5 linked regions of the Homo sapiens genome follow. The protein of the gene in region 5 purifies or fractionates together with the protein of the main gene of each other region. This does not show direct contact. Each region holds a gene or a part of one and is shown on either strand. Other genes may lie near its edges. The genes, in order: SLC37A3, ECI1, EPB41, PACC1 and BCAP29.

Region 1 (5,840 bases), about 33 Mb from region 5:
CTCATGGTAAGTGTGTGCCCCTTTAAAAAAAAAAAAGTCATTTTTCTGTTAATTAAGTTCAAAGCACTTACTTAAGTCACTTCAGCAAAACTGTTGATTGCTTTTAAAGGCTCCTTTGTGAAAAGTAACATTTTATTAGTCTAAAAGACATCTTCTTCTTCTTCTTCTTCTTTTTTTTTTTTTTTTTTTTTGAGGCAGAGTCTCGCTCTGTTGCCCAGGCTGAAGTGTGGTGGCGTGATCTTGGCTCACTGCAGCCTCTGCCTCCCGGGTTCAAGCGATTCTCCCACCTCAGCCTCCCGAGTAGCTGGGATTACAGGCGCCTGCCACCACACCCGGCTAATTTTTGTATTTTTAGTAGAGATGGGGTTTCACCATATTGGCCAGGCTGGTCTTGAACTTCTGACCTCAGGTGATCCACCCGACTCGGCCTCCCAAAGTGCTGGGATTACAGGCAGGAGCCACTGCGCCTGACTTCACATTCTTCTTTGTGAGGAAGAAAAAGGCTCTCAGTTTGCTCTTGACCTGAGTCTAATGAATATTGCCATTTATGATTTCAGAAAAACAAGAAGAGACTTATTTAAAGTATCACCAGCCCCTAATCAGTATACTCTTCTAGGCTACCCTCTATCTGCTGAATATAATATAGGAATTCTGAAGTAAATTACAATGTATACCAAGCAACACTTGAGTTAAAAGAGAAGCATTGCTGTAATCAACACTGTCATGTTTCCCGGTTCTAAAATGTTGATAGTTTCTTGAGGAAATATTTATGATGCCCTAGACATTCTTGGCTGGGATTCTCTACTTTCTTGGAAATAGCCAATACAGAGTAAGGCCTTGTTTATTTTTATTTATTTATTTTTTTGAGACAGGTCTCATTCTGTCACCCAGGCTGGAGTGCAGTGGCACGATCACAGCTCACTACAGCCTTGACCTCCTGGGCTCAGGTGATCTTGGGCTCAGGGGGTCCTCCCACCTCAGCCTCCTGATTACCTGGGACTATAGGTGTGTGCCACCATGCCTGGTAACTTTTTGAATTTTTCCTAGAGGTGGTTTCACCATGTTGCCCAGGCTGGTCTCAAACTCCTGAGGCTTTGTGCTTTTAAAATATTGCTCTCTGTTATGAGCTGTGACATACTCAGGCACGTTATTGTGGGACAGTGCTCAAGACAGGTCTACCTGAGAGAGTCTGGAAGGCACCAGGGACGCATTCAGTATCCTGTCCCCAAATCCAGGGCACTGTAATTGAAGGCAGCTTCCACCACCCGTACTCCAGGCAGCTGTCCTCTTGCTGTGGTCAAGGAGCCCCAGGATAGTCCAGCTCCAGGAATACCTTGGAGCTTTCATCTAATTCCCATCTAGCTTCTAAAGACTGGGCCCATGTAACTTGTGTTCCATTTCTGACATCCATGCTAAGTAGAGGGAAGTATCTTGTGATGAACTTTCTGATGTGATCATACTAGGAACTGTAGTAGAAAGAAAACTTTTATCTATTATAAGGATCACTGTTGTTCATCTGAGCCTCTGGTCTCAGTTCTCTGCTCCGCCTATGGCAAATTATTTGTATGTATTGTTCTTTTTTTGGGAACTGAAATGTGATGTTGAGTGTTTTGTAATATTAGCCATAATTTTCAAAATCATTTTCTAATTCATTGAAGATTAAACATTATCTTTGTATGAAGTCAAAATGAATGTAATTGTCCAAATCCATTATTATGTTCAAAACATGACACTCTAACAGAAGTAAACTGTTGCTGCATATTTAATACTATTTTCTCTTTACAGACAAGTTGTACAATTGTGTTTATCTCGCCATTAATAGTGAGGGAAATATTCTCTCTCGTGCTAAGGAGACAGGCTCACATATTGAGGGAGTGACCGGTGCCCGCGAGACAGAAAGAACAATGTCAGCCACATCAGGACCGCTGGGGCTTCGAGTCTGCCCTAATTTGGGTTTGTCTAGGAGCTCCAGCCTGATCTTGGATTGTCAGGCGTCTCTCAACACTGCCAGCCACCTGAGATGCTGACCAGCAGTGAAGGCTGCACTAGTTTTCTACACTACAGGAATTACTGTTGATGATTTTTGCTGTTGTTTCATGAATGTGCCGAGTGACTTCTGACTCTGCCAGCATCTTTGACCTCTGACTCTGCCCGCGTCTTTGTTTGGCCTATTGAGGTTTAGCGTTTTAACCTTAACTGTTGTTTTGGACTTGAACTTTCTCTAGCCTTGAAAATGGAGTGAACAGGAGGCAAAGCCACGCGTGGTTTGTGTTGGTGGTATGTTCCACAAATGGAAGAGATCATTGCATTTTGCTTTGGTAATGAGTTTACAGAGAGTGGGTCATCTTTGAAGCATCAAATCCTGATCAAATGCTCAAGCTGGACCGAGCTGCAAGCCTGCCTTGGACAAAGAATCCCTCTGTTCACTGTGGTGGGAAAGATCACACTACATGCCTGTTGATTGGCTCAGTCACTCTGTGTCTGATCTAAACGTCATTCAGCCCTAGAAGCATGAATTGCTTCAAATTATTGTCAACTTGTTCTCTTCCATTTTCATTCAAATTAACTTTGACTCCTGGAAGTATTGAGTCTTCCTTTCAAGGACCATAAGGTACATCAGTTATCTTGAACATTCTGACGTGTAAAGGACCATAAGGTACATCATTTATCTTGAACATTCCGACGTGTAACTCACAGCCGAAGCACTCCATCCCAGATTTGTTGTCTGGGAACTTAGGATCCTCTAGGAAGCTAATCTGCTTAGTCTATTTTTAGAGGATTGATCTCTGGCACAAGCAGCTTCCTGGAGTTACCTCAGCAGAAGACTAGAATTAGAGAAAAGGGAAAGACCTTTTCTTCTAGTAAGTGTCAAGTACAGATGCTCTTTGACTTATGATGGGGTTATGTCCCAGTAAACCCATTGGAAGTCAAATGCATTTAATACCCCTGACTGGACACCACAGCTTAGCCTCGTCCACCCTAAATGTACTCAGAACACTTAGAATTGCCCACAGTTGGGCAGAATCATCTAACACAAACTCTATTTTATAATCGAGTGTTGAATATATCATGTAATTTATTGAATATTGTACATTATGTTGAAATTGCAACCATTTCACACCATTGTAAAGTCCAAAAATCAGAAGCTGAGGACTGTCTGTACATGACATTGAATCACATGAATGGATTACTAGGGCCTGAGGGGTGTCCGTTCTTTAGAAAAATGTAGAGTATATATATCTTCAGGGCTGTGAATTCCATACTAGTTATCAATATTTTAAGATCATTCTGTATATACATATTTTAAATTATGCAAGCAAACTAGGAGGAGAATGTGCAATTTTGAGGGATACCTAATTTGCATTCGGTTAGGGGATATTTTTCAACCTCTTGCTTTATACTCTGATATGGGGTGTGTTTATGAACTTGTTAATGTTATTTAATCATGCAGATTTCCAATCAGTGTATTGCTCATTTACTGACAAAAAGGGAAAATACGAAACACAGAAAGGGAAAATAAACTGACTTTTATAATGAATCTCCATTTCGTTACTTAAATCTATATACCATGAGCACTGAGATTTAGAATGTGATCGGTGCCCTCATGTTTCCTGATACTGAGCGCTCCCGGGTGAGCCCACGCTGACCCACAGCATTGCTGGGTCACGTGCTCCCTCACCTGAGGTGCTGGGGTGGCTTCATTTCCATCTGTTCTGTGAAAACTTGCCCTTTCCCACTGTGGAAGACTGTGCTCGGTTTGGATGAATTGCCCGGTTGTAAGTTAAGGGCCGTCTGTTTTCTCATTGAACCTCTTGGCTGGCGTTTGGCTCAGAGTTTCCTTTCCGGCTGCACTGTGGGTGTGGTCTCATCTTTGTGTCCCCACGCCAGCCAATGTTTTCTTACCCAGTTGAACCTTAGATCGGTGACTGTTCCCCTGACCTTTCTATGGCCCCCGAGCTGTACTGAAATGAAACCATTTAAAAAAATTTTTTTGAGACAAAAGTCTCGCTCTGTCACCCACACTGGAGTACAGTGGCACGATCATGGCTCACTGCACCCTTGACCTCCTGAAGTCAAAAGCGATCCTCCCGCCTCAGCTCCCAAGGAGCTGGGACTAGCCTCCCAAGTAGATGGACCGTGCGCCACCATGCCTGGCTAATTATTTTTAGTCTTTTTATTTTCTGTAGAGACGAAGTCTCACTGTTACCCAGGCTGGTCTCAAACTCCTGGGCTGAAGCGATCCTCCCACCTTGGCCTCCCCAAGTACTGGGATAACAGGCATGAGCCACTGGGCCTGCGTAAAATGAAATTACAAATCAATGCTCAGCACTGGACAACATGAAATAAGGATATATTCCCTTATTCTAGTTCTGCCAGTCTGCACAGGATTTAACTTTTTTTTTTTTTTTTTTTTTGAGATGGAGTCTCACTCTTGCCCAGGCTGGAGTGCACTGGTGCAATCTTGGCTCACTGCAACCTCCACCTCCCGGGTTCAAGCGATTCTCCTGCCTCAGCCTCCCAAGTAGCTGGGACTACTACGGGCACACGCCACCACGCCCAGCTAATTTTTGTATTTTTAGTAGAGATGGGGCTTCGCCATGTTGACCAGTCTGGTCTGTAACTCCTCAAGTGATCCACCTGCCTTGGTCTCCCAAATTGCTGGGATTACAGATGTGAGCCACCGTGCCCAGCCAGGATTTAACTTTGATGAACATCTAAGAGTTCACTTTATTTTCTTCTTAATATCTTCTCCCTTGAGAAGGGAAGAGAAAACCATAGTGAAAGCTAATTTGAAAATGCATCCTTTCCTCACAGCCAGATCGTCGATGCTCGCTAGGTTGAAATAAAATGCTGCGGTCTGCCTTTTCTTTTCAGAAGGTGGTTTTTTTTTTTCTTACAGTTTCAAAGGAGGAAATGTCTCTCCCTACTCCTGCTTATTCTGTCCTTTCCTGGTTCCCGAGGAACCAGAGTGCCACAGTCAGCATTCCTGCAGCAGTATTGGAGGAGCTGCTGTTCCTCATGATGTTCCGTGGGATGGAGAATGTGCAACGCTCTCAGTCCTTTGTGCCTCTTCCCTTTTCCCTTTTTTTTTTTCTTTTTTTGAGACAGGGTCTTGCTCTGTTGCCCAGGCTGGAGCGCAGTGGCACAATCATAGCTCACTGCAGCCTCAACCTCCTGGGCTCAAGCAGTTCTCCCACTTAAGCCCCACCCTGAGTAGCGAGGGCTACAGGTGCACACCACCACATTCAGCTAATTTTTTAAAATTTTTTTGTAGAAAAGGGGTTTCGCTGTGTTTCCCACGCTGGTCTTGAACTCCTGGGCTCAAGTGATCTGCCCACCTTGGCCTCCCAAAGTGCTGGGATTACTGGCATGAGCCACTGCACCCAGCCCCCTTCTTCAGAACCTCCAGAAGTCCTCCTGTCTCCCAAATCAATACACGGTAAAGCCTTTTCTTTTCCCTACTGGCTTTTCTGACTAATGTCCTAGTTTTCTTTTTGCAGCTAAACCCTTTGAGCTAATAGACAGTATCTGCTGCCTTCCCATCTATACTACTCATTTCCTCCTCAACTAGGTAGCTACCTGTCTATCTGTTGGCCCAGGACAGTCCTGACTTATACCTGTCATTCACCGTAATTATCAATGGCACTTCCTTTTGCTCTCCAAGTGTCCTGATTTGGACCCCTTATCTCTAGCCTCTGGCCTCTCATCACCCTACAGAAGCCATGCATTGAGGGTCATTGAATTTTGAGACTTTTTCCCCCCTCATCCCATATTTGTGCTTGACACCTGTAACCACTTCGTCTTTCCCAGGACTTTTTCTTCTTTGGCTTCTCTGGCAT
Region 2 (6,200 bases), on a different chromosome or scaffold from region 5:
CAGGCGTGCACACACATCCTGGCTAATTTTGTATTATTTATTTATTTATTTTTGAGATGGAGTCTGTCTCTGCCACCCAGGCTGGACTACAGTGGCGTGACCTTGGCTCACTGCAACCTCCGCCTCCCAAGTTCAAGCACTTCTCCTGCCTCAGCCTCCTGAGTAGCTGGGATTACAGGAGCATTACCATGCCCGGCTAATTTTTGTATTTTTAGTAGAGAAGGGGTTTCACCATGTTGGTCAGGCTGATCTCGAACTCCTGACCTCAGGTGATCCACCCTCCTTGGCCTCCCAAAGTGCCGGGATTGCAGGTGTGAGCCACCGCGCCCAGCGACTTAACGTGTCATTTTCACTCAACTATATTATGAAGAATATTTCCACGACGCAGGAGGCTGAGGCAGGAGAATGGCACGAACCCAGGAGGTGGAGGTTGCAGTGAGCTGAGATCGCACCACTGCACTCCAGCCTGAGCAAGAGGGAGACTCCATCTCAAAAAAAATAAATAAAATAAAAATAAAAAAATTTCCATGGCACTATATTAAATACTGTCTTACAGCACAGGAAATGGCAGCACAGCCTTCAGTCATTTGTATCAGGGTTGGCAAATCTGGCTTCTCAAGGCCCTGAAGCTATGAATAGTTTTTACTTTTTTTGAGAGGAGTCTCACTCTGTCGTCCTGGCTGGAGCGCAGTAGCATGATCTTGGCTCACTGCAACCTCCGCCTCCCAGGTTCAAGTGATTCTCCGGCCTCAGCCTTCCCAAGTAGCTGGGATTACAGGTACCTGCCCCCACACCCGGCTAATTTTTGTATTTTTAGTAGAGACGGGGTTTTGCCATGTTGGCCAGGCTGGTCTAAAACTCCTGACCTCAGGTGATCCGCCCACCTTGGCCTCTCAAAGTGCTGGGATTACAGGCTTCAGCCACTGTGCCGGGCTGGTTTTTACATTTTTGAATAGTTGAAAATCAAAAGAAGGTTAGTATTTTGTGACATGTGAAAATTATGTGAAACTCAAATTTCAGTGTCCATAAAATTTTTTTTGTTGTTTTTGAGACAGAGTCTCACTCTGTCACCCAGGCTGGGGTACAATGGCATGATCTTGGCTCACTGCAACCTCTGCCTCCCAAGTTCAAGCGATTCTCCTGCCTCAACCTCCCAGTAGCTGGAATTACAGGCACGTGCCATCACGCCCGGCTCATTTTTTTTTTTTTTTTTTGAGACAGAGTCCTGCTCTCTGTTGCTCAGGCTAGAGTACAGTGGTGCGATCTCAGCTCACTGCAAGCTCCGCCTCCCGGGTTCACGCCATCCTCCTGCCTCAGCCTCTCGAGTAGCTGGGACTACAGGCGCCCGCCGCCACACCTGGCTAATTTTTGTATTTTTAGTAGAGACAGGGTTTCACCGTGTTAGCCAGGATGGTCTTGATCTCCTGACCTTGTGATCCGCCCGCCTCGGCCTCTTAAAATGTTGGGATTACAGGTGTGAGCCACCGCGCCTGGCCCATTTCTGTATTTTTAGTAGAGATGGGGTTTCACCATGTTGGCCAGGCTGGTCTTGAACTCCTGATCTCAAGTGATCTGCCTGCCTCAGCCTCCCAAAGTGCTGAGATTACAGGCGTGAGCCACCGCACCTGGCCCACTGTCCATAAAGCTTTGCCGGAACACAGCTATACCTGTCAGTTTACGTCTCCTCTGTGGCTGCTTTCTGCTACAAAGGTCTTACCTACAGAGCCCACAAGCCACCTGGCCCTTTAGAGACAGAATTTGCTGGGCCCTGGTCTATACCATCGCTGATATGACCAGCTCTTTTTCTATGAAGTGGACAATTGTCTTTGTAGTAGGTTGAAAAGTGTGCCCCAAAAGATAGGTCCAAGCCCTAACCACTGCTCTGGAACTTGGAAGTGTGACCTTATTTGGAAAGAGTCTCTGCAGATGTAATTAAGTTGGGATCATCTTGGATTTAAGGTAGGTCCTAAATCACATGGCAGGTGTCCTGAGAAGGGAGAGAGAGACCTGAGACCCACAGAAACACAGGGGAGAAAGCTGCGTAAGGATGGAGGCAGAGATTAGAGCGAGGCGCCCACAAGCCCAGGGAGGCCTGGAGCCAGCAGAAGTGGGCGGGGCAGGAAGGAGCCTCCCTGGAACGCAGGGAGGAAGTGCAGTCCTGCCCACACTTTGATTTTGCACCTCTGGTCTCCAGCACCGTGAGATGAGCTTCTGCGGTCTGGGCCACCCGGTCTGTGCTGCGTTGTTACAGCAGCCTCCTGACACCCACATGGCTGTGATTATCAACAGTCTCCCGAAGTCACGATGTCCACAGAAAACCTTTGGGTGGAGAACCTTCTGGTCTCCCCAGCATCATCGGGCGCCCGCCATGCCCCGTGCCTCACCTGGAATGGCCATCCACTGGGCTATCGCTGACAGCGCAGTGCTCTGCACCTGCTCCTCCGGGACCACCTGGTCCACTATGCCCACCTGCAGGGCCTCCGCCGGCGGGAAGAGCAGCCCCAGCTGCAGGGCACGCTCCGCCGCCCGGTGCCCGATGGTGTTCTCCAGGGTGTCTTTCAACCTGGAAATGCAGACACCCACTCACCACATGGCCCCAGGCGGGTCTGTTCCCTCCACAACAAGCATGGAGCGTGGCTGCAGCCCAGGGCCTTACCAGAAAGGGGCGATGATGCCCAGCTGGGTCTCATTGAGTCCTATGCAGTACCTGGGGTTGTCCGCCAGGATGCGGTAGTCACAGGTCAGGGCCACCAGGCAGCCTCCAGCGGGGCAGGCTCCCTGCAGGGAGAGGCCGGACAGGGCTCTTAGGTGCTGCTGGTCCCAACCACATTCCAGAGGGCCAGGTCCAAGGAAGGAGGGCCTGTGCCCTTGGCGCACCCCGACCCCCGCAGGGTTCAACACCCACAATGGTCTGGGCTGGGCTGGGTGTGCACTGGGAAATGGATGAGGAAGGAACTGGCCCCTTAGCGCTCGGCAAGGAGGGTCTGAGGCTCGTCCTCAGCCGAGGGTCATTAGTTCTTCGGCAACAGATAAATCACTTTTAAAAACCATTCAGTTAGGGGAGCAAGTCGCTTGTCCTCTCAGTGCTTTTACTCAATGCTAAAATGCCACACAAGCATTTAGTCATAACTGTCATGCCCCAAGGGGGCCCCGATACCACCCCAGCAGCTAGCGCAACCAGGATGTCCTGGGAACCCCACACTCACCCTGTGGTCACTGCAGGTACCCACTGCCCCGCGCAGGACCCATCCTGTCTGCATGGCCGTGCACCCTTGAGGCTTCCTCTCACACCAGCCCTCCCCTCCACCAGGCTCCGGCCCACACCCGGCTTGTCACAGCCACCCCGCAGGACACCCTGGTTCCTGAGGTTAAGCCCCCGTGTTGTTCTCGGCTTCCCTGGCCTTCCCCCAGAAGGGATGGAGTGATGTTTCCAAAATGTGGGTCCGATCACCCACTCACCCACACAGCCTCCACCCAGGCTGGCATCAACCCCAGGCCCTGGTCCCTACCCACTGGCTCTTTTCTGGGTCTTGTCTGATTGACCCAGGCCAGGGCCCTCACCCGAGGCCCACCTTTCTCAACACGCCCCGTGGTCTGCGATGGCGCTCACCTGTGCACATCTCAGGGCCTCTCCAACCGTCCCCTTCCCCTGTGAGAGATTCCAAGGGCAGGACAGTGTCTGTCCCACCCCCTGGCGCTGGCCCAGAACAGCCAGCGAGGCCACCTGGGAGTGGGGACACTCACGTTGATGGCGGAGACCAGCACCAGGTTGGACTGGTACAACCGCAGCCACAGCTCCTGAACGGCCTTCCAGTACCCAGCGTAGTGGGCGGGGCTCCTCCCACACATCTCCGTCAGGTCCAGGCCGGCCGAGAAGACACCCGGGCGGTCCTGCAGGGGGAGCCGGGGCCACATGCCCATCAGAGTCCACCTCCCAGCTGGCATCACAGCAGGAGGGCTGGGGAGCCCAGGTGCACGACGCACAGCAGGGCCAGGTCACGCTCAGGGTGTGGGTGCTGCCCCACAGAGCCAGGACTAGGCGCTCCAGGGACTCGGCCAAGGCTTCTCCTGGACCTGGCTTCCCTGTACTTCCCAGAACATTCTTCCCTTTCCCGCTTCAAACTGGATAGGAGAGGACAGGCAGCGCCAGGCACCTCTCAGGGACATAAGTGCGCCGGCCCTCTGGCTCTGCACGCCTGGCTCGGGCAGAAGAACCCAGAGGTGTGGTGAAGACTCCTGAGAATCCAGAGGAGCTGCACGTTCTGAATCATTTACCCGCAAAGGGCCAAGCAAGCCAGGGACCCCCGTGTGGACCAGGAAGTGCTAGGGTGGGAGAATGATCTGGAATGTGTGGGTTTCTCAGCAGCTACCAAGGAAGGGCGAGGGGTGAGCACAGGTGGAAGGGACCCTCCCACGGCTGGAGTAGCGGGCGCCAGCACAGGAGCCTCAGACTCCCAGTCAGGGCTGCCGGCCAGGGAGGCGGGCTCGGGGAGGAGTGGAGAACCCACCCTGGGGACCCTGCATGGTCACAGCCCCCTGAGCAAATGACAAGGGTACCTTCCCCTCTGCACAACACGGCACGTTTTCCTCCCGAGGGCCAGACCCCCCAAGGCTGTGGGTGAACTTGTTCCTGCAGCTGAACCCAGCTCACCCTGACTCACACAAGCAGAGCTGGGTGGATGTTTACCCCGCCCTGTCTGCAGGAAGGAGGGCGACAGCCACCTAATGTGTGCGAGGAGGAGGCGGCTGGGACAGATGGGATGGCCTCCACATCCTCAGGCGATGTGAAAAAGCCAGGAACGGTGCGGGTGGGCAACGCAGCTCCGCTGTTCCCAAACAGGTGTGAGCTGGTGCCGCACAGAATGGGTAGGCCGGTCCTTTGTTTCTACAAAACGCGTTCTACTTCCGTTACTCAAAACCCAGGCCTGGCGTGGTGGCTCATGCCTGTAATCCCAGAGCTTTGGGAGGCCAAGATTGGAGAACTGCTTGAGGCCAGGAGTTCAAGACCAGCCTGGGCAACATAGCAAGACCCCGCCTGTACAAAAAAGTAAAAATTAAGCAAAAAAATTAACCAGGTGCAATGGCTCGCACCTGTAATCCTAGCACACTGGGGAGCCGAGGTGGGAGGAGTGCTTGAGCCCAGGAGTTCAAGACCAACGTGGGCAATAAAGGCACTGTCTCTCCCAAAAATTTTAAAAATTTTCAAGATTCAAGAATCGCTTGAACCCAGGAGGCGGAGGTTGTAGTAAGCCAAGATCACGTCACTGTACTCCAGCCTGGGCAAGAGAGGGAGATTCTGTCTCAATAAATATATAAGGCTGGACGTGGCCAGCACTTTGGGAGGCCGAGGTGGGCAGATCACTTGAGGTCAGGAGTTCTAGGCCAGGCCCTGTAAAGCCACGCCAGCCTCCGAGGACCCCTCACTCCCCTCACCTCAGCCAATGCCCGCTTCTCCTCAAGGGTCCCATCCTCCTGGGCCTGACACTGCTTACTGCCCCTCGGCGATGTTGGTAATGACACCGTTCCCACAGATGACACGCCTAGCGTTCGCCAGCACTCAGGCAACATTTAGAGTCCCCTGCACAAGAACTCAGACCAAAGAGGTTCACCCTTGAGAACTCGCCCTGAAGACTGGCCCACAGAGGATCAGAGAGCATGGGTATTGTTCGCAGGACTGGCTCAGGGCACCCAAGTGATCCTAGTGGGGAGCACTCCAGGAACCCACCACCAGGTGTGCTTAGGGTCCAAGGTGACCCCATAGATGCATGGCTCTCCCTCACTCGCTGCCCACAGCTCTCCCCAGTGTCCGCCTGGACGACGGCCCGGGCAGGGAAGGCTGTCTCCCAGGAAGGCGGTCTCCCAGGAGGGCTGCCTCTTGGGAAGGCTGTCTCCCGGGAAGGGCGTCTCTTGGGAAAGCTGTCTCCTGGGAAGGCTGTCTCTGAGACTGGTCCACCTTCACCTTTGGGAATGATCTGCTTGAGGCCCATGGCAGTTTGGGTCCCTGCTGGGGCACACCCAGACGGTGCTCCTGGAAGCCTCCCGTGAAGGCGCCTGGAGTCCAGGGTGGTGGGGCTGCCGGCTGGCCTGTGCCACACGTTGGCAGGCTCTGCCTCTTCCATGTGCAACAGGCCTGGGCTCACATCAGAGAACTCAGGCCAAGAACTCGGGCTGGGGTAGGGAGCTGAACTAGCACCTACCGA
Region 3 (6,200 bases), on a different chromosome or scaffold from region 5:
AGCTCAGCAATCCATTTTAAGTTCTCCAGGTTGTTCTGATGCACACTGAATGAACCACAGTGGCTCATTCAAAAACCACTTGGGTAGGGCCCTGGAAACTTGAGCTTTAATCCTAGTTCTACCTAATACAGCCTAACAGAATGAATCCTTAAGGAAAGTCTCCTTACTTCTCTCTTCTTCAGCTACTAAAGTTGCTGGGGAGGTCCAGTGCCAGGCGTGGTGGCTCACACCTGTAATCCCAACAATTTGGGAGGCTGAGGCGGCCGATCGCTCAAGCTCAGGAATTCAAGACCAGACTGGGGAACATGGTGAAATCCCGTCTCCATAGAAAATACAAAAAATTAGTCAGGCATGGTGGCACGTGCCTTTGGTGGTCCCAGCTACTCAGGAGGCTGAGGTGGGAGGATTGCTTGAGCCCAGGAGGTAGAGGCTGCAGTGAGCCTAGATTGCACCACTGCACTCCAGCCTGGGTGACAGTTGAGACTCTGTCTTAAAAAAAAAAAAAAAAAAGAAAAAAGTTGTTCTGGATTATTTTGGGCTGGGTACTACAACTTCTATGAATCTCTAAAGTATATTGTAGGAAGATCAGTACATCAGATTAGGTATGTTTCTAAAACTGAAATGGTTAGATTTTGCTTCACAATTCCTGCTGGAAGCTGGTGTCAATTCAGGTATTGATGGAGTCAGGCAGCATGTTCCCTTCCCAAATATTGTAAAGCAAATTGTTTCTCCAAAGTGAAATGTAGTTATACCCACAAGCTTTAAAAATTTAAGAGGGCATCTTCTGGGAAATTCTCAGTTACATAGTCACTGAATTGGAACTGTATGTAATTCCTGCTTCTCTGTTATAACACGTGTAGGCACTAATATATTTCTCTATACTCATTTTGGGGGAAAGAGTAGTCAAGAAGCATTTAACTTTGTGTTTTGATTACTTAGCTAAACAAACTGTTAGCTGTAGGGACTAACTTAGGTGAAATTTATTTTCTTTGAATTATAGACATAGATGATTAATATTACATATTTAATTTTTTAAAGTTGTCTTTAATAAAGAGGCATATAAATATGATTTCATTGTGCCTTAATGTAACTTCTTGACTTAGGGATCATATTTTTAATTTAATATACTTAACATCAATTTTAAGAACCTAAGATTGTCTTATGCTGAGTTTATATAGGAATAGAGTCAACTCCTACATTTAACATCATTTCTGGAGCTGTTAACACTTTATCATAAAAAAACAAGAATTAATAATTGTGCGTGTATATTTGGTAGTATACATAGCTCTAAGCCCTGCTCTCCAGGAAGTCATGACTGCTGATTTAAACATAATAGGTCCATAAATTATAACTGTTAGGCTGAGCTTTATTTTTCATTGTATGTTTTGTAACTGTTTTTGGTTGTTATCTTCAGATTATCTAGTAATAGTCAACAGTGTATTGAGTACTTTGCTCCAGACTGAAATCCTAACATTTTTCTTTTTCAGGACTTGGAAGGAGTAGATATCATCCTAGGTGTCTGCTCTAGTGGCCTTCTGGTTTACAAAGATAAGCTGAGAATTAACCGCTTCCCTTGGCCCAAAGTGCTGAAGATTTCTTATAAACGTAGTAGCTTTTTCATCAAGATTCGGCCTGGAGAGGTACAGAATTTATATTTCCTTCCTCCCAAACCAGACACAGTCTGTATCTGAAATATCTACATTTCCATTTTCCTTATTAAGTCATCTGAGAAGTCTCTCTATAGTTAACTATTGAAGGGCTGATAATTCCGTTTTCTAAGTTGATCAGTCCTGTGATGCTACTTCTTTTCCTTACTACTGGTCTTCTGGACATTTCACTTTTTGTAAGTAAATATACCATTGCAAAAAGTTAAACTTGGACTGATACATTTGTTCCTTGTTTACGCCAAGCAAAAACTTAATGGAAAAATATTTTTAAATTGAGTAGCATGAGATTTTAAAATTATTTATAGGGATAAATTACTCATGTTTGGCATCACCAATCCTTTATCTCATATAATTAAAATTTATTTGTATGCATAGCTTCTCGTGGTTACTGAGAGTGAGTTCTAGGGCCAAGTTCTAGATTTTTAATAAGAGTTGGATGTTCAACTTTGTACCAGTTAATTCATTTATTAGTTGGTTTGGGGATATACTAATGCTGGCCAAATTTAACTTTTGTATTGAAGAGCCATTATGGAATAGCATAAAATTGTTTAAGTAGGAATTAAAGTTTTTTAAAAAGTTCTGACTTCTTTTCTGCCACATACTAAGCAAAAGACCTGGACAAATCTAAGGCTCAGCTTCCTTGTCATTTGGGCAGGATAATACCTTCTCCATCATAGTTATTTGAAGATCAAATGAGATGACAGCTGTGTAAGTTCTATATAGGAAATGATACTAACCTAAGGTGGCTTTTGTGTGTATATATCACCATCTGCTGGTGAATAATGGCTAATTATTTGTGCCTGCAAATTCTGGATGTGGAGCCTTAAAAATCTTGGATAGGGATTACCATAGAAGCATTTATTTTGTACCATAATTATTTTACCTATGCCTAGCACAGAGCAGTCAGTGTCTTCCCTTAAAATTTCAAATTCAAGAGTTATTCAATCAACAAATATTTATTGAGAGCTTTCCTGTGTTGGACACTATTCTAGGGACTAGGAATATAACAGCAAATTAGAATCTCATCCCTCACACACGTTAATATGAAAATGGGAAATCCTTAGCTTCTAAAAATGTAGAATTCTTATTTAGAAGGCAATCAGGAACAACAGGATTTTGAGAAAAAGTATTGTGGCAGCAGTAGATGATTTAGCAGTGGCATGGTATGGTGAAGAGGGTAAAAATCTGGTTCTGTCATTTCATAGCTGTCAGTCTGAGCAAATAACTTCTCTGACCTCAGTTTCTTCATGTCTAAAAATATAGATGATATTATCTAATCATAGTGTTACTGGCAATAGTAGGCACTCAAAATAAATGTCAGTTTCCTTTCCATCTTATAAAATATGCTTAAAGTAGAAATAAAGAGGCAAGAGGTCAGCAGGACAGTGTTTCTAGTAACCCTGGGAGAATATGTTTTGCTTCAGTATAAGAGGAATCTAGATAAATTAATGATCAATCAAAGGAAAAAAGAAATATTTAATGATTCAAGAATCTGAGGAATAAGTTCAAGAGATCTATTGTACAACATGGTGACTATCATTAATAACAATGTATTGTTCTCTTGAAAAATTGCTAAGAGACTAGATTTTAAGTTTTCTCACCACAAAAAAATAATAAGTGTGTCAGGTAATACATATGTTAATCAGCTCAATTTAGCCATTTCACAATGTATACGTGTTTCTTGGGTTTGTTTGTTTGTTGTTTTTTTTTTTTTTTTTTTTTTTTGGAAGAAGAAGTCTCGCTTTGTCACCCAGGCTGGAGTGCAGTGGCGCCATCTCAGCTCACCGCAACCTCTACCTCTCAGGTTCAAGTGATTCTCCTACCTCAGCCTCCTGAGTAGCTGGAATTACAGGCGCGTGCCACCATGCCCGGCTAATTTTTTTTGTATTTTTAGTAGAAATGAGGTTTCACCATGTTGGTCAGGCTGGTCTTGAACTCCTGACCTTGTGATCTGCCCACCTCGGCCTCCCAAAGTGCTGGGATTACAGGCGTAAGCCACCGTGCCTGGCAGGTATACATATTTCAAAACAACATGTTGTAGATGATAAGTATGTACAATTTTTATTTGTCAATTTAAAAAATTGATTTAAAAATCTGGCTTGAACTAAAATCTTTAGCTCCTATTACTAATTTCTATTGCATAATAATATTGATTGATTGGAGGACTTGGTCAATATCCCATTCCCTGTTCATTGAACAGTGTCCCAAATGCAGATAGTGACTAAGGAAAAGCAGTGTCTGGACAATCAAGAGGTGACTTAATTGTGTCTCAGAAAAATGTATAATGAATGTGTGTGTGTTTTCTGGAAAAAAAAAAAAAAGCTTAAATTATATGAGATGCATTCCCTGGCTTTCTTGCTTTGGAAAAAGCCACCCTCAGTGAGTGAATTTCTTTCAGTAAGTAGGAAAAAATTCCAAATGACATTTTATGTCCTTAAATTGGTAACAATGGCCTCTTCTGTGGCACCATATTTCTCTGGTACTGTATCACTGTAATCTGGTACTGTATCACATGTAATACTTCATGTCCCATGTTTATTTGTGTTTTTGTAGCAAGAGCAGTATGAAAGTACCATCGGATTCAAACTTCCCAGTTACCGAGCAGCTAAGAAATTATGGAAAGTCTGTGTAGAACATCACACGTTTTTCAGGTATTATTCTCACTTAAGTATTTTTCAAGGATAAATTATTTATAACGTTTCTATTTTAAGCCTGCTATTAAAATTCCTTTCATTGTATGACTGGCACTCTTTTATTTAGCTCAGGTGAGATCATCTTAAGCAAGACAAAATGAATCCATTTCTCTCCCTTTGGGTTGAAAAGTATGCCTCAACATTTCCAAAGCACCTGTCTGTGTATGGTAGAAGGAAGAGAGGAGTAAGGAATGGGAACCTGTATTTACCAGGGACTCTGGGATTGCATTAATTGTAGCTAAAGTCAGTCCGATTAAGGGGAGTTACCCTCACTTACCTCCACGTGTGATTTTTTTTTTTTTTTTTTTTTTGAGACGGAGTTTCGCTCTTGTTGCCCAGGCTGGAGTGCCGTGGCGCGATCTCGGCTCACTGCAACCTCCGCCTCCCGGGTTCAAGTGATTCTCCTGCCTCAGCCTCCTAAGTAGCTGGGATTACAGGCACCCGCCATCATGCCCAGCTAATTTTTTGTATTTTTAATAGAGACACGCTTTCACTATGTTGGTCAGGGTGGTCTCAAACTCCTGACCTCAGGTGATCCACTTGCCTTGGCCTCCCAATGTGCTGGGATTACAGGCATGAACCACTGTGCCCGGACGGAATTTTTATTTTTTTGTTTTTGCTAATTTTTTTTTCCACATGGAATTTCTCTAAGCAATGCTTGACTACTTTTTGTGGAGCTTTTATACTATAAGGTTAAAGATGTGAAGCTGATTTTTTTTTTTTTTTTTCGAGACAGAGTCTCGCTCTGTCGCCCAGGCTGGAGTGCAGTGGCGGATCTCGGCTCACTGCAAACTCCTACTCCTGGGTTCAAGCAATTCTCCTGCCCCAGTCTCCTGAGCAGCTGGGATTACAGGTGCACACCACCATACCTAGCTAGTTTTTGTTTTTGTATTTTTAGTAGAGACGAGGTTTCACTGTGTTAGCCAGGATGATCTCGATCTCCTGACCTCATGATCTGCCCACCTCGGCCTCCCAAAGTGCTGGGATTACAGGTGTGAGCCACCGTGCCTGGCCAACCTTGAAGCTGATTGTTAGCTTCACTCTAATGAAACCCAGAAAGGGAGCACACAGAACCATATTTGAAGCCCAATAGTACCCGATAATCAGAAGACAGAAGAAAGTATTTCCTCTGCTGTTTGTTTGTTTGTGATGGAGTCTTGCTCTGTTGCCAGGCTGGAGTGCAGTCTGTGATCCTGGCTCACTGCTCCTGGGTTCCAGTGATTCTCCTGCCTCAGCCTCCCAAGTAGCTGGGATTACAGATGCCCAACATCACGCCTGGCTATTTTTTGTATTTTTAGTAGAGATGGAGTTTCACTACGTTGACCAGGCTGGTCTCGAACTCCTGACCTCAAGTGATCTGCTCGCCTCGGCCTCCCAGAGTGCTGGGATTACAGGCGTGAGCCACTGTGCCAAGAGGCCATATTATTAACCCCTTGAGTTCGTTTACCAAGCATTTTCTATGTGCTTACCCTTCTTGTATGCACCATGTTAGGCATTGGGAATATACTACAAGATAGTTCTAGTCTCTCTCCTGGTGGAACACCCAGTCTAGTAGAGAAGACAGACCTTAGACAAGTAATTACTTGTATTGAAAGGAAAGTTGGCTATTTATCAGTTTGCCTTTTTTTTTTTTTTGAGACAGAGTCTCACTCTGTTGCCCAGGCTGTAGTGCAGTGGCGCAATGCCTCAACCTCCCAAGTAGCTGGGACTATAGATGCATACCACCATGCCCAGCTAATTTTTAAATTTTTAGTAGAGACCGGGTTTCACCATATTGACCAGGCTGGTCTCGAACTCCTGACAAGTGATCCACTCGCCTTGGCCTCTCAAAGTGCTGTGA
Region 4 (6,200 bases), on a different chromosome or scaffold from region 5:
AGTGAGCCGAGATCACGCCAGTGCACTCCAGCTTGGGCAACAGAGCGAGACACCGTCTCAAAAAAAAAAAACAAGAACACTCCAGTGTCAGCTAACAAATTGTGTATTAGTCAGAGTATAGGCTAAGCTACCAAATAAAAACAAAACCTGCAAATACAATGGCTGAGATGAGGGAGAAGCCTCCTTCTCTCTCTGAGAACAGTCCTGGCATGCAGGCCGTGTGGCGTAGTGGGCAGTACTGCCTCATAGGATAGTCCAGCCATGACTTTTGTCTTGTCACTGTGCTGTCCCCTGGGCATTGTTCTGGTCCATGTGGGCAGTGTGTGTGTGTGTGTGTGTGTGTGTCACTGTGCTGTCCCCTGGGCATTGTTCTGGTCCATGTGGGCTGTGTGTGTGTGTGTGTGTGTGTGTGTGTGTGTGCAGTGTGTGTGTGTGTGTCTGTGCACATGCCCAGGCCTGGGAAGGTGGAGGGCAAGCAGTTCCCTTTTCAGGAAATGGGGTGGAGTTGAATGAGTCCCCTTTTCTTTCGCACATTAGGAACTTTATCACGTGGCTACATTTGAGGGCAGAGATGAGGCTCCAGCAGGGGGAGTGGATTCTGCTGAAATCTGGGTTGGGAAAGCCATTCTAGTACTAAAGGAAGAAATGGATAATAGAAACCAGGGACAGTGCTTTCTGTTGCACACTTAAAACAAAATGGTACAGAAAGGTTGAAAAATAAATAGATGGACAAAGCTGTCTTGAGAAGATGCAACGAAAACCAGAAGTGACAATATTAATAGTGTGGAATTCCACGTGCAAAAGTTTGCAAGAAGGATGTTTAATATTGATAAGAGGTTCAACTCCATACTCTCCACTAAGACGACTGAACAGTTCCAAAACTTTATGTACAAAACAGCATGACATTTATATATTTTAAGCAAAACCCGTTAGAAGTAAAAAATACCATCACTTTAGAGCACGATTTAAACACCCCTCTCAGAAATTCACAGATCAAATAGACAAAAACTAGAAAGGATAAGAATTGAATAGTGCAGTTAATAAATTTAGAGTATGTATGTGTGTGTATACATGTGGGGGCACAAAACTTTGTAACTGACAGTGTACTCACTCTTTTTCAAATCTCTGTAGAGCATTTATTTATAAAAGTTGATGTAAAAGACATTTTTTTCTAAAATTAATCTATAAATTCAGTTTCTATCACAGTTAAAAGTCCCAGTGAATTTTTTTGTGGAACTAAGCAAGCTAGTCTTAAAGCATACTTAGAACACGTTCAAAAATAACCAAGACAAGTTTGGGGATGGGGAAGAGTAGTAGGGAGAGCACCTTCCCAGATCTCAGAACAGTGGAAAAACCACAGGAATCAAAGTGGCACAGTACTGGACAGAGACAGACAAATGTGTGGGCTCTGCTAGGGCCAGAAGCAGACATAGATATTGGTTCTGCATGGAATTTAGTATAGGATAAAGGAGGGAGGGGAAGAGGCTTCAAAACCTGTCTCTATGCATTGTTTGGGAAGTAGGAGTTAGAGCCCTATTTCACACTATATACAGAGCTTAAAGCCAGGTATATAAAGTATCTAAATGTAAAAAAGATTAAAAAGTGCTATAAAGAAATAGAGGAGAATATTGATATAATTTTGGCTTTCCTCAGCAAGCAAAACCCAAAGCCGTAAAGAAAAGGATTTAAGGTTTTACTACGTTAAATTTAAAGTTTCCATAGGACAAATGACATTGGAAACAAAGTTAAAAGAAAAATGACAGACTGGAAGAAAAGATTGGCACACATAACAGATGAAAGTGATCATCCTTGCTAAATTAAGAGCTTCCATAACTCAAAGAACCAATGAGAAAAGTGGACAGAGGATGAGCTGCATTCAGCTCTGGTTGGGCATCATATGGGGAAAACTCCCCAGGAATGAGCATGAGTCCCAGCCCAGTCCTGTTGTTGGCTAGTGGTCCCTTTGGAGACCACTGGGCAAGGAGCTATGGGCTTTCCAGTCAGTACTTCTGCCCTCAGACCCAGAGGCCTCTGTGTACTCTCCCAGGACTGAGACTCTGTCCTTTTTCTCTCTGCAGAAATCTGCCCTGATTGTCCAGGGGCCCCGGGAAGTGAAAAAGCGGGAGCTGGTCTTCCTCCAGTTCCGCCTGAACAAGAGTAGTGAGGACTTCAGCGCCATTGATTACCTCCTCTTCTCTTCTTTCCAGGAGTTCCTGCAAAGGTGGGCTTTTAGAGTTCACAGTGGGCTTACTGTCTACTTTTTATCTTATTCCAGCTGTGTATGTCCCAAGGCTAGAGACGGAGGGGTGAGGGCAGGGAAGGGAAGGGGCATTCTCAGATGACCCACTGGCCCAGGAAGGGACCTCATGAGCTTGGCCGGTCCACTCAACATCTTATCACAAAGTTAAGCAAATCTGGTGTGGAGGAGCATGCTGGCTCTCCATGCACATAGTGCTGGCTGGTTCTAGAGAGATCATTTGGTCTCACCATTGCCTGGGGCTGCTGAGGAGTAGGGGAAGTTGCCTTTGATTTGTAAGTCCCTTTGAGAGCAAGTTCTTGTGTGGTTCCTTGGTTTCCCCCACAGTGTGCACAGGAACCACATCTTGCCCTTAGTGCGGGCTTAATGTATGTTTGCCTGAAATACAGTTGGTCCTTGAACAACTTGGGGTTTGGGGTTACCAAACTTAACCACTCCTGCCTATGCAGCCAAAAATTTGTGTATAACTTTTGACCCCCAAAACTACTAACAGCCTACTGTTGACAGAAGCCTTACCAATAACATAAACAACACATATTGCGTGGTTATATATATCATAGACTGTATTCTTACGATAAAGTAAACTAGAGAAAAAAAATGTTATTAAGAAAATCATGGCCAGGTGTGGTGGCTCACACCTGTAATCCTACCACTTTGGGAGGCCAAGGTGGGCGGATCACGAGGTCAGGAGATCGAGACCATCCTGGCTAACATGGTGAAACCCCATCTCTACTAAAAATACAAAAAATTAGCCAGGCGTGGTAGCGGGCACCTGTAGTCCCAGCTACTCAAGAGGTTGAGGCAGGAGAACCGATTGAACCCAGGAGGCAGAGTTTGCAGTGAGCTGAGATTGCGCCACTGCACTCCAGCCTGGGCAACAGAGCGAGACTCCAAAAAAAAAAAAAAGGAAATCATAAGGAAGAGAAAATATACTTACTATTCATTCAGTGGAAGTGATCATTGTAAAGGCCTTCATCCTCATCGCCTTCATGTTGAGTAGGCTGAGGAGGAGGTTTGGTCTTGCTGTCTCAGGAGTGGCAGAGGCAAAAGAAAATCCGCACGTGAGTGGACCCAGCCAGTTCAAACCTGTGTTGTTCAAGGGTCTACTGCATCTCTGGTATGAGGATATAAGCTCTGCCACCTCTCTTAGTCTTCGATTTACAGTGATGAATGTCCCCTGACCATCAGAAAGTTCTTGTCTGCTCCACACACACTGCTTTGGGGTCACACCGTGGAGCCTAGAGGGCAGGAGAATTTTCTTCATGTGCCTGAGTTGAGAGGGACTCAGTTCCTACCAGGTCCTGCTGAGCCCAGAGGCTCCATTCAGAGCAAGCAGGGAGGCAGCTACAGGGGCAGGGAGGCTGCTCCCCAGCTGGACATGCAGCGAGCTGCCTCCATTCCACACCACCACTGCTTTGTTCTTCCACCCCAGAGCTCGGAGCCTCTGCCTTAGCATTTTCCACCCTTTCTGCCACCTAGAATTCCCTCTCCCTTCCCTGCTTCAAGCTGGCCATCTTGCCTTCCTCCTGGAAGACTTTCCCCGGGATCCCACCCCCACTCCACGCTCCTTTCGTGAGCTTCCTCGGTATGCTGCTGCAGTTTTTACTTGTTTTTATGTTCGCTTTGATTTTGCTGCATCTGCACCGTCTTGGGGCTGATGCTGTAGGTGACCCATCTGGCTGAGACCTCCCCAAGGAACCCTCTTCCCCTCTTTGGGCCTTCCATGGGAGCTGACAGGCTGGTGAGGGCTTCCTCAGGCTCTGCTGAAGTCCAGAGTTCTCTGAGGAGCTGTGAGCGCCATGTTCTGGGGAGCTTCTGCCAACTTCATTGCCGACAGCTTTGGTAGCCATCGATAGGAATGATGGGAGGAGGGAGGAAGATTTCTCCCACTGGGAGCTTCAAGGATCATGTTCCTGCCTTGAGGCCAGTGACTACCCCTCCATTTGGAAACCAAATGGAGAGAAAAGAGGGATGGGCCTTGCTTTTGCTGGTGACTGACAGCCCTGTTGAGGCAATCACAATTTGGAGAGGAGGCAGGGAGTGGGCAGCATCCTGGTTGTGCCAGCAAAGAAACCAGCTTGCAGTGGGGGCTTCGACTCCTGCTGCCAGACCTGCATTGACCTGGATCTTCCTTCTCCTTCCTTCCTCCAAGCCCAAACAGGGTAGGCTTCATGCAGGCCTGTGAGAGTGCCTATTCCAGCTGGAAGTTCTCTGGGGGCTTCCGCACCTGGGTCAAGATGTCACTGGTAAAGACCAAGGAGGAGGATGGGCGGGAAGCAGTGGAGTTCCGGCAGGAGGTAGGTGGCTCTGGGTTTGCTTGAAACTGCTGGTGACTTTTCCACATTCGAGTCTGAGGTGGAGGGAAGCTTTGCAGAGAAGGCTCCTTTGAGCAGGGCCTTAAGGGTGAGTAGGCCTTGGTCAGGATGAGAAGGGACTCCCATGGAGGGCTTCATATGCTATGCCAGGGAGTCTGTGTGTGCTTCTGCAGGCAGCGCACATACCGGCCAGTCCTCACGGAATGCATGTGTGGGGCAGAGATCATTGTGGCTTGCAGAGAGGTCAGTAACTCGCCCAGCTGTGTCTGATGTCTTGCATCTAGCAGCACTTTGAGGGGCTGGCAGTGGCCTAGCAGATTGATTATTTGCAGGGAAGAGAGACTAGACACAGTGGTCCCAAGTGTGCATGTTGATCCTTTTCCTAAGGTCCTCTTCAGCTCTCACAGGTGTCACAGCGAGAGATGCCAGGTGTATCTCCTGGCTGCTAGGCCAGTGGGCTGAAAGCTTTTTGATCAGATTTCCCATTAGTAAAAACTTTTTGATCATATACTCCATATACATATAACTCTGCAGGTGATATAACATACTATTATTGTCTTAGTGTTATATACACTTTAAACATTCAAAAATAGAAATGTTAAAAGGATGAGATAAAAATAAATAGTAAAAAAAGCTAGTCTTTTCTTCTTGTATCCCAGTGGCTCGGGATGCTCATCTGGAGCAGAAGGACACACTCCAGTCAACTAGGCCATCACTGGCCAGAAGTTAGGCCGGAGAAGACTGTCTTGGGTTAGTCTTAAACAGGGCCCTGTCATGAGCCCTAGCTCCTCAGACTAGTCCAGGCTGGTTACTTGGAAGAGGCTCAAAGCCAGTTTTCTTCAAGGAAGCAAGGCTATTTTTCCTGCCTTGGGAAGTGACAACCCCTCCTGGTGACTGGACCTTAAAATCTTCCTGTTTTGTAAGATAACTGTCATCTCCCAGATTTTTACCTCCAAATTTGCTCCAAGAAATTCAAGTCCTTTCTTATCTGGCCCCACAGCAGCTCTGAGGAAGGAGACTGTGTTCACTTACCTTACAATTAAGTTCAACCCCATCTACCCTGGATTTTCTGATAGCTCCCACTGTGATCCGAAACCAAAGGGTGAAAACTCTAGTGAACCTGTACATTAAAGAAATTTTAGCATCTTTTATTACTGTCTAAATTGGAAGTCTTTTGTTGGCATTATGAGCTCTTTTGAACAAAACTAAAAAATGTGTTTTAAAATCACATTTTAGAGTTTAGAGTGCTCTCACATAGGTATGCCCCTATACTGTAGTGACGTAGGCATTTTGTTCAGCTTTGTGGGTGGCAAAGCTGAGGCTCAGCTTCGATGATGGATCTGAGCCTCTGGGTGGAGCTGGTTTCTGCCTTTGTTACCTGTCTGCTCTCCGTTACACCACACAGCGTCTTTAGTAATTGACAACCAGATCTCACCAAGCACACCTACTAAGTATTTACAGGGAATGCTCAGCTGTGTGGATCTATGCAGCTGTGCTTTGTCCCTGTAAACTTGAAGGGTTGAAACAAGCGTTGAAAATTCAGAGAAATACTTGATCTGAAAACCAAGTACTTTGAAATTTGGAATTTTTATTGCTTTTAATTGTGAGTCTTACATGGTAGTTTGAAT
Region 5 (6,200 bases):
GGAACCAAACAGGATGCAATATCATCATTATATATTAGTCCAAGAAAAGTACTCTGATAGCAAGCAAACCCTTTTTTCTGTTTTGACAATAACATCAATATGTGAAGATAACACAGAGATGAACTAATAAATACTAATAAATCCTTTATTTACCTAACTAAAAGGATTGGTCATGAGTTTTATTTACTTTAAATAATTAAAATACTATTAATTATATATTGCCTACTGGCACAACCATCAAATAAACTATATTATTCTTTCTTAATGCAGTTTTTTTTTTCAGTTGATACAAGAAGGGACAAAGGTGTCAAAGAAACAGAAACTTCCAGACATGAAAACAAATAATATGTTTTTTTCTTATTTAAATCACAAAAGTGCATTAAAAGGCAACAAAGCAAAAAAAAAAAAACAACAACAACAACAACAACAAAATGACTAAAAACAGCAAACTGTTTTTAAGCATTAATAATTTTAAAATAAGCTGGGGGCTTTGATATAACTGTAAGTAAAAGATAACTAAGTTCACGTCCACAAAAATTTACAACTGTAAAACATGCTTAGGGTAAACTTAGAATTTATTTTTAGATGAATATATGGTTCATTTGTAAGAAACTGGAAATCATATGGTTTTAAACTTGTATACAAAGCTTATGTCTTATTCTTAACACTGAAGAGGCAGGAATTTAGGGTTTTGGGTATACAGATCAGCAATTCCCCTGTAATTTTCTATCTTGTCTTGATCTCCAATTTCTCTGGAAAAACACTTCAGCTATTTTTCACTATCTGGTCCCTATGTTAACTGGCAATAAAAAGTAAAAAAAACTTAACATCTTCAAGGGTATCAAAGTTGGTCTGCAAAAGGTAATTTTAGTTTTGTTCAACGTAAGTCAAGGTGATATGAAAGCATTTATCCAGGAAGAGAGTTGAATTATCATTATTTTAAGTAGGGGACTAAGGGTTCTGTTTCCTGGTCCAAATCTAGTATCTCTATTGCGTGCTGCTAATACTTAGGTACCCATAATAGGTCTTTACACTCAGTTTCTGATTGTTAGTATATGCTTTAAGAAATTTATTTAAAGTTTGCTTTATCCTCAAGAGGCACACTTTTTAAGGAAAGTGTTAATTATGCTCCACATTAAATGACTTTACAACGACTGAATTACTTGAAAAGTTCTTTTAAAAATTGCTGAGGCCCAGGCACAGCAGTTCATGCCTGTAATCCCAGCGTTTTTGGAGGCTGAGGAGGAAGGGCTTGAAGCCAGAAGTTCAAGACCAGACTAAGTAGCAAAGCGAGACCCTGTCTTTACAAAAAATCAAAAAAATTAGGCGGGCATGGTGGTGCACACATGTAGTCCCAGCTACTCAGGAGGCTGAGGCGGGAGGATCTCCTGAGTCCAGGAGTTCGAGGTTGCAGTAAGCCAAGACTGCACCACTGCACTCCCACCTGGGTGACAGTGAGACTCTGTCTCAAAAAAAAAAAAAAAAAAAAATTGCTGATGAAACAAAGAAGGAACAAAGGAAAGCAGGAACAAACAGAAGAAAGGCATGGTCAAGAAATTTCCCCCAATTACTGTTTTCTCTTTTCCTTTATGTAGAAGACATATACTGCTAATTCAACCTTTACTACAAGATTGGCAAGCCCTAAGAATTCCTTTTAAAATATGGGATGTTTTTTATATCTATATGTATTCCTGCTCCTAAAAGAATGAAGAACAGACATTTCCACATGCAGCTCAATCACTTTTTAAACGATATTTACTTTTATCATTGCTTGGATGCATACAATGACTGAATGCTACATATTTCTAGTTATAAGAATAAAGGAGACCGGGCGCAGTAGCTCACACCTGTAATCCCAGCACTTTGGGAGGCCGACGCGGGCAGATCACAAGGTCAGGAGATTGAGACCATCCTGGCTAACATGGGGAAACCCCATCTCTACTAAAAATACAAAAAAATTAGCCAGGCGTGGCGGCAGGCGCCTGTAGTCCCAGCTACTTGGGAGGCTGAGGCTGGAGAATGGCGTGAACCCGGGAGGCAGAGCTTGCAGTGAGCCAGATCCCACCACTGCACTCCAGCCTGGGCGACAGAGTGAGACTTCATCTCAAAAAAAAAAAAAAAAAAAAAAAAGAATAAAAGAAGGTATTCATTTATGAAAATAAGTAGTTTTCCTGGAAGAGACCTTTAAAATCAATCTCTTTGGACATCAGAAGGTTTTTCCACTAAATGCAATGTCTGTGCTAGGGTGATATTACTGCACGGAAGCACCGGTAATAGTTTACAAACTTTGGTCAAAATAGGAGTTGGAGGTTAAAAACTGAAGGTGTTTGCCACTACTGATAGAGTGTTCTCAGTAGCTGCCTTCAGAATGCCACTTTTTAAATTTGGGGCTAACTAGCTTAAATAAACATTTGTATTTACGTTTTGTTTCCAATAATACACTTGGGAGAAAATGTTTCACTTAGATTTAAGTAACACAAAGGATAAGAAAATTCATATGGAAAACACCCTATTTTCCTCTAAAAAAAAAAATTGCTTTTTTTTAACTCAATTTTCAAATGTAAGATCTCTTTCTAAATCTTTCTTAAGCCTTGTCACCTTAACACCCTCAATATTTAGAAATCAATGAACATTTTTGAGTGGTACTGTGCACAAAGCATTGTACCACTGAATTCATCCAAATCATGCACTATTAATTGATATATTTTCTTAGTTCTTACCTTACTGAATTTAACTGGTTTAGGTCAACAGAACATGACCAAGGAAACACCTTCTTTAGAAACGGAACTCTGATCTTCTCAAGGTCATTACAAATGTTATTTTTTAAAAAAACTTAGGGTAAATAAAACATGTTCATAAAATATTATATGTCTTGCTGGAACCAAACAGGACACACTCGAACAGGTAAAATCTGCCTTTACCTGAACACTAATTCACTTTGAAAGTAGCTCTGCAGTCTATACTTCAAACACAGAAGCTGGTATCAGTTGTTATCAGATTGTAAACACAATGCTTACATTGTCAAAGAGTTCATTTTTTCTAAAATCTGATTTTGTCTTTTAAAGAAATGCTCATGTAATACTAAGTTAAGTTTTATGCCAGATTTAAAGAGTTAAAACTCAAAATATCTCAGAGCTGGAATTTTTGAAAGGTGAAAGGAGAAACTCAATTGTGCAGGGTTAAGAGAAGTGTAGCACACATACACTCTTGTCTATCTTTTATTTTTGTGCCACCCTGCTTACAACATAAGAAAAGAGATTCTTGGTGGATACAGAAAAAAGAAAGCAGGATTTTGAAAGAATATTTTTGTGTTTTGGAAATAGATGGTTTCATTCTTCAAAAGAATTGGTAGCAATATTTTATGCAGGGTTAAAAAAGAACACTAGTTTCTCTTCTGAAATGTCTGTTGTAAACGGTAGGTAACTATTAAATTCATTTTCATATAAACAATAACATTTCTTGATCATGTTCGAAATCTTTTGGAATTACAGAAAAGGCAACAGTACCAACTAGAAGATTCTTGAATTTTGGGCTATACTATGCCAACTACATAATATACCACTTTGTCTATAAGGGTAATTTATTTTTTAACTTATTGCTTCTGAACTGTCTTCTTTTTTTCACTTGAAATAATAAGGAGGAACGTGACTAAAGAATTTTGTATCACATAAATATTCTCCAGTGGATTTCTGTTCTATTCACAGAATTAGCTTTTATTTTTATGTTTTTCATCTCAAATTCAAATACACCCTGATTGAAGTAAACCCTATCCAAACAACGTACCTTAACACCAACTGAAAGTGAGGTTTCTCAGTGTCTGGCCAACATAAAAAACTATCTGTTGTATGCAGAAATGTTGCAAATCATCAAGCCACAAACTTACACTGAGTTTTCTTGGATGACACTGAATTTGGGTTATCTACTTTTCTGTGCTGTGCAGATGCAACAAAAATAATTTGTTCTTTGACTAAGAAAAAAACACTAGCAAAACTTTTTTTTTTAATGTAGAAGAAATTGCTGCCTTCAGGAAAATGGAGTTGGGATGCTCCACTTCAAGCCTACACTGCAATGTTATGTGGGAAGGAGGCACTCAAATTCTTAGCTGACATCCCAGATATTGTTGCCTACTCTGTGCCTACCCACCTCTTTCAAGGAACGCTTTCCTTATGTCTAACAGGTAGAATATATTAGTGCTTGAAATAAACAATATATTTTCTTGTAAGAAAACTGTTCCCCTACAATTGCTTCTCTGAGAGGAGGAATATACGATGATGGAAAAATGTGATTCTTTTTATAAAAACACATTTATAAACAACTTTTTAGGAACACAGCTCTTTTGCTAAGGCAAGAACATCTGTATTTACAACACAGATCTGAAACACCTACATGTTTTTCTGTATAACAGAGCATGTTTCTCTTGGCTGACATAATGTTTTATCTTCATATTTGAACAAGAATTTATAAATAGGTCATTCTCGGTATCTTAGAAGAACATTTAGGCATTAGTTTTGTTTTAGGAAAAACAGTGAAGTGTACAGCATAAAATATCATGCTAGTCTTTTTACTTTTTCACATGTACACAAAGTTACCATCTGAAGTCTTCCTTAATTCAGTTTTCAGTTTCTCCTGGTCTTCTACTAGTTTTTTATTTTCTGCTTCCAAAACACATTCTTCATCTTTACCATGGCTTTTCAAAATCTATTGCAAAAGGAGATACAGGAAGAAATAAGCTTAGATTGCAATAGCCAGACATTCTTACAGAAAATAAGCTGAGTAACCTATCTAAACTTACCTGTTTATAATTTATTCTTTGTCCTTTTCAGAATTTTATAGTTTTCTACAATGTACTTTTGCTAACAGAAACTTAATATTTGGGAAACACACAAAAAAGATTTCCTATTATGGCAAAATCTGTAAAATGAACATAAGAATTTCTAGTTGCTGTGATTAAAATAATATTCTCAAAAGTATTTAGGTAAATAACGTCAGTCTTTCTTCCTCAATTAATGAGAAATGTAAATCTAAGGGAAAAAAACAGTTCTGAGGATGATATTAATTAGAAAACCATTATGTTCTGATTGTAGAGCTATCTACTCAGCCTATTTTTATACAGACAAATTTGTAAGAGAAGAATATGTCAGAGTGGAGATGGGTAAGTGGGAAATGACAGGACCATTTCTACAGCTGGAAAGTTCTAATTTTCATTGAATAGTTTCCAAATTACTGTTATTCCATTAATCCTTTATAATGCTCTTTATATTTTAAAATTGATTCTGGCTTTAAAAATGTTAGTGTTTGTAGCTTATCTTTTCTAGGTAAGAAAAATTAAGATCCATATAGTAAAACAACTGATCAAAATAAAATTATCATGGAGTAAAAATTTAATCATCTGTATTGTGTACAGAAACTATAATTATCATCAGAACTAAGAAGCTGACTTAAAGAAATGATAAAGCATTTAAATTACCTAGAAAGACAAAGTAAATGTTTGAAAAACATAATATGTATACTGTTGTGGGTCAATAGATTAAATAAAGAGGCAGGCAGCTACTTTTTTTTCTTTTTTTTTTTTTAAGAAACAGGGTCTCACTCTGTCACCCAGGCTGGAGTACAGTGGTGCAACCCATAGTCTCTTCAGCCCTGACCTCCTGGGCTTAAGTGATCCTCCCATCTCAGCCTCTTGAGTAGCTGAGACTATAGGCGTGTGCCACCATGGCAGGCTAATTTTACAAAAAATTATATATATATATATGTGTGCATATATATATTTATATATATATATATAAAATTTATATATAATTTATATATAAAAATTATATATAAATATATATATAAAAATTATATATATTTATATATAAATATATATAATTATGTATATATATATTTATAAATATGTATTTATATACATATAAATTTTAATATATTTATATATTTATAAATATATATTTATATACATATAAATTTTTAATATATTTATATATTTATAAATATATATTTATATACATATAAATTTTTAATATATTTATATATTTATAAATATATTTTATATATATACAAATTTTTAATATAAATTTATATATATAAATTTGTAGATCTATAAATATATATAAATTTATAGATATATAAATTTATATATACACGTGTGCACATATATGTGCGTGCGTGTGTGTGTGTGTGTGTGTGTGTGTGTGTGTGTGTGT

What was found.
Region 1: the proteins of BCAP29 (region 5) and SLC37A3 fractionate together in Homo sapiens (co-fractionation; one large-scale study listed by BioGRID). This does not show direct contact.
Region 2: the proteins of BCAP29 (region 5) and ECI1 fractionate together in Homo sapiens (co-fractionation; one large-scale study listed by BioGRID). This does not show direct contact.
Region 3: the proteins of BCAP29 (region 5) and EPB41 fractionate together in Homo sapiens (co-fractionation; one large-scale study listed by BioGRID). This does not show direct contact.
Region 4: the proteins of BCAP29 (region 5) and PACC1 purify together in Homo sapiens (co-immunoprecipitation; one large-scale study listed by IntAct). This does not show direct contact.

The regions. Positions count from the first base shown.
Region 1 is NC_000007.14:140,331,450-140,337,289, reverse strand, and holds the end of SLC37A3 (sugar phosphate exchanger 3), read left to right. Parts: coding exon 1-6; intron 7-1,785; coding exon 1,786-1,878; coding exon of another isoform or gene 1,879-2,027; 3' UTR 2,028-3,538; downstream 3,539-5,840. UniProt on the Homo sapiens protein: Unlike the other SLC37 members, lacks glucose-6-phosphate antiporter activity.
Region 2 is NC_000016.10:2,240,662-2,246,861, forward strand, and holds part of ECI1 (enoyl-CoA delta isomerase 1, mitochondrial isoform 1 precursor), read right to left. Parts: coding exon 6,198-6,200; intron 3,892-6,197; coding exon 3,745-3,891; intron 2,779-3,744; coding exon 2,657-2,778; intron 2,564-2,656; coding exon 2,385-2,563; intron 1,158-2,384; exon of another isoform or gene 974-1,157; intron 430-973; exon of another isoform or gene 1-429. UniProt on the Homo sapiens protein: Key enzyme of fatty acid beta-oxidation. Able to isomerize both 3-cis (3Z) and 3-trans (3E) double bonds into the 2-trans (2E) form in a range of enoyl-CoA species, with a preference for (3Z)-enoyl-CoAs over (3E)-enoyl-CoAs.
Region 3 is NC_000001.11:29,031,606-29,037,805, forward strand, and holds part of EPB41 (protein 4.1), read left to right. Parts: intron 1-1,487; coding exon 1,488-1,640; intron 1,641-4,220; coding exon 4,221-4,318; intron 4,319-6,200. UniProt on the Homo sapiens protein: Protein 4.1 is a major structural element of the erythrocyte membrane skeleton. It plays a key role in regulating membrane physical properties of mechanical stability and deformability by stabilizing spectrin-actin interaction. Recruits DLG1 to membranes.
Region 4 is NC_000001.11:212,375,916-212,382,115, reverse strand, and holds part of PACC1 (proton-activated chloride channel), read left to right. Parts: intron 1-2,078; coding exon 2,079-2,221; intron 2,222-4,409; coding exon 4,410-4,554; intron 4,555-5,231; exon of another isoform or gene 5,232-5,322; intron 5,323-6,200. UniProt on the Homo sapiens protein: Chloride channel gated by pH that facilitates the entry of chloride ions into cells upon exposure to extracellular acidic pH. Involved in acidosis-induced cell death by mediating chloride influx and subsequent cell swelling.
Region 5 is NC_000007.14:107,598,895-107,605,094, reverse strand, and holds part of BCAP29 (B-cell receptor-associated protein 29), read right to left. Parts: intron 4,912-6,200; exon of another isoform or gene 4,793-4,911; intron 4,699-4,792; coding exon 4,590-4,698; exon of another isoform or gene 4,566-4,589; intron 1,733-4,565; exon of another isoform or gene 1,588-1,732; intron 1-1,587. Other genes in the region: DUS4L-BCAP29 protein, read right to left, coding at 4,590-4,698. UniProt on the Homo sapiens protein: May play a role in anterograde transport of membrane proteins from the endoplasmic reticulum to the Golgi. May be involved in CASP8-mediated apoptosis.